Homo sapiens: one gene and its partner. The protein of the gene in region 1 purifies or fractionates together with the protein of each later gene. This does not show direct contact. Each region holds a gene or a part of one and is shown in the gene's direction. Other genes may lie near its edges.

Region 1 (3,500 bases):
CTGAGTTCTCCTGATTGAATTTTGTCCCCTTCTTGTATAAGGAAAGAGTTGATGTAGTTTCCTGGGTGTAGATGGTTTGAGAGATGGTACTGCCTATCCCTAAAATGAACCAGGCAGCCCTCACACTTCCCCACCAGCAGTGAGAGATTCCTGGCTCAGACACAGCCACACTACCTTGCTGCCCCTGTGCATGTCTGCCAGGAAACTTTTCATTGTGCCTCTCTCTCTTGTCACGTAGCCCTGCGTTCTGAACTCACGGTGGCTGCTGCAGTCCTGGTGCTGTTGGTGATTGTGATCATCTCACTTATTGTCCTGGTTGTCATTTGGAAACAGGTAGATATTTTCTCATAAAACTAAAGATCTTTGAAGCCAATGAGAACAAGCATAGCAACCTAGTTCAGTGCTTGGCACAGAGAAGGAGCTCAGCAATTACATGTGGAGTGAACGTTGTTGGACTCTACTGTGTCCAGTCACTGTGCTGCTTCAGTGAAGCTCTGGTGCACTGGGACTTTGGTAATTCACCAGTTACCTGTCCTGGTCATTTATAGAAACCGAGGTATGAAATTCGCTGGAGGGTCATTGAATCAATCAGCCCAGATGGACATGAATATATTTATGTGGACCCGATGCAGCTGCCTTATGACTCAAGATGGGAGTTTCCAAGAGATGGACTAGTGCTTGGTAAGTTCCATGGGGTAACCTCCCAAGACTCCCTTTTCCCTTGCACACAACTTTACAATTTATAGGCCTTGGCAGAATAGAGATCTGAGCTTGTGCTTAGTAAGAACTAGGCAATGGAAATTTGCTTTCAGAAATACATTTCTGTCTTGACAGTAAGTTAATTGGATCATTGCAATGATTTTTTTAAATCTCTTTCCATAACAAATTATAGTTAAGGAAAATTTTACAAAGGGAGAAGAGAATATGAAGAGGGCTGGCAAAGATACCCACCAAAATTGCTTTTCTTTAGAAATGACACAAATTGAAAATGAATTTCTGTGACTAAAAATGAGCAGATGAGAAATGAATGAGGACAACCACAAAATGTATTTTGATTCAGTACATTCTGAAGATGCATTAGATACTCCTTTTTACATATTTGGAATATGGAATATAAAAATATAGGTACATTTTGAGGCAAAATATGTAAAAATAAGCAAGCCAACTTATCACAAGCATTTCAAGTATTTCAATCCTGGGCTGAGACCAAGTATATGAAGCTTTAGTCCAAGGGAGTATTTCTTTTTTAAATCACATTCCTAATGAATGAAAGCAAGACAAAGGCAAATGAAAGTAGAGGTAGAGGTTGTGTTATGATGAATGATCTAACAGTATATATGTTAAAGAATGCCAAATGCAGGTTTTAATTATCCACCGGTCTCATTGCAAAATACAGAAGAGTTTAAGTCTTCTTAGAGAGTTAGGTAAACTGAAATCAAGCAAGGCACCAGAGTGAAATCACCTTTGCAAAAATTGTAACTGAGGAAATTATGACAGTGAATGAGATATGACCTAACCAACTCCATTTTGCTTTAGCCTCCAAGTTGTCCTTGTTCCTTCCTGGGCATAGGCCGAACTAACTTTGAGAGGAACTTAGTTTATAGTTTGACTTTGAAAAAAAGACAATAATAGCCCTTTGCCAAAACAAACCCTCTTTTTCCCTGGGAACTAGACTGCCTTTGCGGGACTAACGAATTAGCTACAAGATTAGAAAGTATGGTTTAGGGGTCACTGTTGTAAAACCTGAGGTCAGTGCTTGAGATATTTTGGAGACCCTGTATTTCGATGCACCAGCTGACACCACCCAGGTCAATAAACTGGCTCATCTGATCTTGGGGCCCCTACCTAGGAACTGACTCAGTGCAAGAGGACAGCATCAGCTCCCTATAATTTCATCTTTGACCCAACCAATCAGCACTCCCCTTTTCACCCCCTACCCACCAAATCATCCTTAAAAACCCCATTCCCCCAGTTTCAGAGACACTGATTTGAGTAATAGCAGAATAGTAGAAATTCCCCCAGTTTCAGAGACACTGATTCGAGTAATAGTAGTAATAGTAGAATAGGTCTCCCGTACAGCTGGCTCTGTGTGAATTAAACCCTTTTTCTATTGCAATTCCCCTGTCTTGGTAAATCGGCTCTGTCTAGGCAGCGGACAAGGAGAATCCATGGGGCGGTTATAAGAGCTGCCCCCCAATTTCAAATATTTATATCTAAGCTTTCTTTATTTTCCTGCCTATTTCCCAACAAGGGATGAGGAGCTTAGGGAGTTAAAAAGTAGTAAAATATGGGGAAAAGGGCATAATTCCCATTATACCAAGAGGCATTGCTGGTGAAGCAATACCTTTCCAGGTACGATTTTCAGTAACACAGACGTGCAGTAAGAGGCAGTGTTGGCTGTTAGTGTCTTTTATGAGCCAAGTCTTTTCCTGGCTTGGCTATCCGTGGTGAGACTGACACCCCGGGAAATGTTTCTCTCAGGGTGAGCTCTTTCAGGGTGGGACAACAGCTTCAGTGTCTTTACGTATGTCTCCTCCCAACATGAAGCTAATTGCTGTGCTCTCGGGCATGTTTAGCTCTTGGTAGAGTGGCTTTCCTAACAAATAGGGAGCAGTGAGCCCAGCCTGAAGTTTTTATTTAGTCACTCCTTAGAATCAGTGATATTTTGAATACTGAAGTATTTCCAGTGGCTAGTAATTTACTAAGACAAAAGATGCCCCTGTTTGCATATGGAAAACAGAAGGGGAGAGAGCCAGGAGGTGTGGGTGAGAGCCCCGAAGGCAAGAGGATCCCAGGGGCTGGCCCAGCACGGAGCTGGTAGACAGCGCGCTCACACCAGGGAGGGCTGCACCCTCCTTTCTCCCGTCTGTGTTTTCTTTCCCTTGCAAGTGTTATTCGACAAAAGCAATTATGCTAATTTCCTTCCCTGTGGGCTCAATTCCTTTTTTGACACGATGACTTGGAGGAGTCATTATGATTACTCCAAACAGGAAAGACACTCGCCCAGCTGTCCGCCCGCAGAGAGCTGGCTACGGTGCAGAAAGCTGAGGAGGCGTCTGGAGTTTTTGGGTGTTAATGATTCTGCCTGCCCACAGGTCGGGTCTTGGGGTCTGGAGCGTTTGGGAAGGTGGTTGAAGGAACAGCCTATGGATTAAGCCGGTCCCAACCTGTCATGAAAGTTGCAGTGAAGATGCTAAAACGTAAGTGCTCCTTCCTGGGGATTTTTTGAGCACGGGGATTTTTTGAGCATGGGGATATTAAGGGAATTTCTCAAAATCATGCAGCTAGTAAATAAGACATTTAGGACTAGGTCCTGATTATTTTGACTCCAGGTTTTATGTGTATTTAGATTAGGTTTATTTAGATTGCTCTTGCTGCCTGTATGTTGGAAAATTAAGAGCTTGTTATTTCCAGTGACTTCTTTTTACTAGAAAGACCAGGAATTAGTTATTAGCACTGAGGCCAAGTAGCTATCTGCTTCTTTTAGACTTCTGGTAAAT
Region 2 (4,151 bases), about 110 Mb from region 1:
ACCACTTGTAATTATATTTCCTTTGTTGCTTTCGCTGGCAGGAAACTCTAAGTTTATGAATCTCTTCTTTAATACTAAATAGATTCTTATAGCATGACTTTATTCGTATTTTTTCCACTGACCTAATTTATTGTTCTGGCCTTGTGGGAGAAGGGGCAGTGGTCCTCTTTGCCTTTTAAATTCAAATACTCATGTATTTTTGCAAACCATTTCAAATCTTTTTTTGGATCTAAATGGAATAGGAATAACAAATTTAAATTAATGCTCAACTTGCTTATTTATAGACTTTTTGCTCTTGTTTTCCTTTTTTCAAACCTCATCCAGCCCTCAAATCCAGCTTTTCCATGCACCCCTTCATTCTTCACTGATCTCCATTTTCTCGGAGCTCTTGTGTTAATATAATTTTGCATTTTACTAAGTATGATTTTGGATACCTCCTAGTGTTTCATGTGTATTAGTCCTGTAGTTCTGGGTTGTAGTTTTTTTAGTGGTAGGGACCATGGCTCATACTTTTCTGAATCTAGTAAAATAATATTGTATCAGAAATGCTTTCTGTTTACACTATAATTGTAACAAACATTGAATTTTTTAGCTTATTAACTCTCAGAGCACCCAGTACATCTTATTTAGAATTGCAGGAACCCATTTTTGTTTCTCTACAGCAGCCGAAGCTTGTTTCATAGATCTTGCAAGACTATTCAATCATTCAGTTAAAATTCCTTGACCTCCTGCTGGATGATGTTCGACAGGGCATTCATCTTCACGACACCCTTCGCGATGAATGGTAACATCTGGGCGGGTAGAGGTCCATTTCTACAGCAACCTGGGGGAGGAACAGGTAGGGTAGGTTTTGGTGTGGGTGCGATTCTTGGGGACTTCTTCAACAGGTAGGACATCAAGTCTGTAGCCAAAACAACACCTGGGCGAAGGGCAAATACCGGAGCCCCGACCGGCTCACGCCCAGTAATGCTTTCTCTGGGTTCTAACTACGTGATCAGGTCGTCTTGGTTTGCCAGGGAAAGCCCAGCGTCTTGACAACCCTGTCAGTTCCGAACAAACCGGGTCGATTGGTCACCGGGGCTCGAATCCCGACTGATATGACCCAGCGGGGACAGAGGATCCCCCTCAGTGCCACAAGTACATTCCCCACCGAGCAGCGCGCCTGCGCCAGTTGCTCTCATGCGTCAAGACTACAGGTCCCAGCAAGCATCGAGGCCCTCTCCAGGCCATTCTTCCGCCGGCGGGGAGCTCTCGTCGGCGTATTTGTTAGGTGTGGCGCGGAAGAGTCCGTGCGTGATGACGTCGACGCGGCGACGTCGAGCTCTTCCTCCTTTTCACGGCGTCTTGCATTACTATTGTGCGGCTGCAGGAGGTGTCGAGCGGCGTTATTTTTTTTTGCGGTTTGCCTTTTTTTTTCTTTTTTTTTTTTTTGGAACCGCGGTTGTTTAAAAGCCTGAGGGAACCTGGAGAGGGGCTCCCACTCCCTACCCTCTTTCCTCCGAGTTTGTGACTCCGAGATGGACAAAGTGTGTGCTGTTTTTGGAGGCTCCCGAGGCATTGGCAGAGCTGTGGCCCAGTTAATGGCCCGGAAAGGCTACCGACTGGCGGTCATTGCCAGAAACCTGGAAGGGGCCAAAGCCGCCGCCGGTGACCTCGGCGGTAGGTACCAAACTGGAGTTGTCCAGTTGTATGGCCGCGGTCCAGGCGCCTAAAGAAAATCTCCTTTGTAAAAAGAGCGGGTCTGGCCTTTAGGGCTCTAGGGTTACTCGATGTAGCCGCGTGCAGGCGCTCTCCCGTTCCAAGGGTAGAATGCGTCTCGTGCAGAAACCCGCGATCTCCCTATGCCTCGCAGAATGCCGGCCACGCAGCTTGCCGCCGAGGGCTGAACACTTGGGGTGTTCTTTGAGACCTCGTAGTCTTTTGAGGCCCCGCTATACGCACCCTCCGCCCTGCGGCTAGTGCTAACGCTGAGGAGCTTCCCTGTTGTGGGAGAGAGCCACGTAACAGTTTACTTTTAATGTAGGGAAAAGGGCGAGTTCTCGGCCCCCGGAGACAGGGCTGGGTCGAAAGGAGTTCAGGCAGGAAAGGTGGGAGTGCAGGTACCAACGGCTCCCTTCAGTTTTGCCCAAGGGCCGTGCCTTGGCCCTGCGCGAATGCACAAAGCAGTGTTTGATAGAGAAACCCTTTTGAGTACCAGCCAGTTTTGAGATATACCTGGTTTGCTTTAATGTTATTAAATTGTTTTGGTGAGTTTTGCAAATGGACAATTGAACTTTGTTCTGCCAAATTCTTTTTTATTGCATTTAAACTTCAGGGTTTTTTATTTCCGGCTTATTATGAATGGATTAGTCATTTTGTGAATATAACTCTTCATTGAGTTTAGGGAGAAATAGGACGTTAGATCCGAAGATGCTATTTGTTTAATCACCAGAATGGACAAAATTATACTTCATTTACTATCAGGGAGGCATGGGGAGAATAGAGGCCTAGGGGTGCGTCTTGTGGCTCTTACTGTTTTTGTGTATCTGGTTTTTTTTTTTTTTTTTTGAGAGGGCTTCCCATTATGTTGCCCGTGCTGGACCCCAACTCCTGATTTACTGGCTCTAGAGATCTTCTCGCCTCAGTCTCCCAAGGACCTGGGACTATAGACGCCAGGTGTGGCTGTTCATTTTTAAGTTAACATTATTGATCGGTTTGGTATCACCTGTTCAGTGCTGGTTGGGAGACTATTGGGCTCTCTAAAAGAAAAAAGATTCTGTAAGTTATAGGTCAGGGAGAGTGTCAGTGAATGCTTCTTGAAGCTCATATTCCTTACCATTCTAACAAAGGAGGGGAAGAGTGGTGACCCTTACTGTGTCACCCCAAGCCATCAGTGTTTGCTGGACTGGATTGAAGCCATTAGTTGGGCTTTCAAAGGTGGTTGTGGACACAAGTCTTCGGGTGAAAACCAAGAGTAAGAGAGACACAGGATGCTTTTGGGCCCTGCATTCCTTTGAATCGTGTTCCATGAGTGATTGGTTTTCATCTAGAAAGTATAATTCCCCGGGTCGCTTACTGTTTCCAAAGGCTTGATGGGGTAGTGTTGGTGTAAGCATATTTATCAAGGTCAGACAGAAAATAAAGAATTGTTTTAGCTTTTAAAAACAATCCTACATTTTAGAGTATTAAAATGGTAGATTACATAGGGAATGCTTTGTTTTCCTTTGAAGTGTAGTTTTTTTTTGGCATTTAACCATTTTTTAAAAGTGGTAAGTAACAGTTGCTTTTAGTAAAAAGTGTTTTTTTCCCCCCGTGGTTTGTAGTTTTAGCATTTTTATAGCTTCCTGTGTTGTCTCATCTCTCCTGATGGTCAGGTTTGAATAATAGTCGTTATAATATATGTGCCATAGTGCATCCGTAGCACTTAAAAAGAAGAAACCCAAGAGTTCCCGTTCAGGGCCAAAGAAACTAATTCAACAAAAACCTGACAGAATTAGACATAAATTTCAAAAAAGGAATATAAAACCCAGAAGACTGTCGAATTGGGTAGCATGAATTCAGTGTTAAAGCTATAAATATTAGATGAATCTTACAGAGCCTTTATAACTTGAAAAAGCCCTCCCCCCTTTGTTGATTAAAAAGAAAATTTTAAAATTAACTTTCTGTAGTAGTACTTTATTTCCTCTTTGTTCCCGCATCCCAGTTTCATTAGACCAACTCTATGAAAGCCAGGCCTCATGACATTACTTTTTTAATCTTTAGGTTCTAGATTAGCACAGGCCTGCCATCTTAGATAGATGCTTAACAAATGTGTATTGAGTAAATTTAAAATTTGAGTTATAAGTAATTCTTATTTAACTTTGTTGTGTAGGAGATCATTTGGCATTTAGCTGTGATGTTGCTAAAGAACATGATGTTCAAAATACATTTGAAGAGCTGGAGAAACATTTAGGTCGAGTAAATTTCTTGGTAAATGCAGCTGGTATTAACAGGTTGGTCACAGATTTAAATAAGTTTCTTATATATATATTTAAAACTTTTATTCCTAATATGTCTTTGATTGGTATAAGTTAATATGTTTATTTTGCTTCTAACTGGGAGAAAAAACTATTTTAAAACTTGTCAATCCATAAATTATTTTCCTTTATATTGAGATACAACATATAATAAAT

What was found. Proteins that work in one complex are often made in the same cells at the same time.
Region 2: the proteins of PDGFRA (region 1) and CBR4 purify together in Homo sapiens (affinity purification with mass spectrometry; one large-scale study listed by BioGRID and IntAct). This does not show direct contact.

Annotation. Positions count from the first base shown.
Region 1 is NC_000004.12:54,274,293-54,277,792, forward strand, and holds part of PDGFRA (platelet-derived growth factor receptor alpha isoform 1 precursor), read left to right. Parts: intron 1-238; coding exon 239-333; intron 334-548; coding exon 549-681; intron 682-3,095; coding exon 3,096-3,200; intron 3,201-3,500. UniProt on the Homo sapiens protein: Tyrosine-protein kinase that acts as a cell-surface receptor for PDGFA, PDGFB and PDGFC and plays an essential role in the regulation of embryonic development, cell proliferation, survival and chemotaxis.
Region 2 is NC_000004.12:169,007,456-169,011,606, reverse strand, and holds the start of CBR4 (3-oxoacyl-[acyl-carrier-protein] reductase), read left to right. Parts: upstream 1-1,351; 5' UTR 1,352-1,517; coding exon 1,518-1,659; intron 1,660-3,850; coding exon 3,851-3,971; intron 3,972-4,151. UniProt on the Homo sapiens protein: Component of the heterotetramer complex KAR (3-ketoacyl-[acyl carrier protein] reductase or 3-ketoacyl-[ACP] reductase) that forms part of the mitochondrial fatty acid synthase (mtFAS).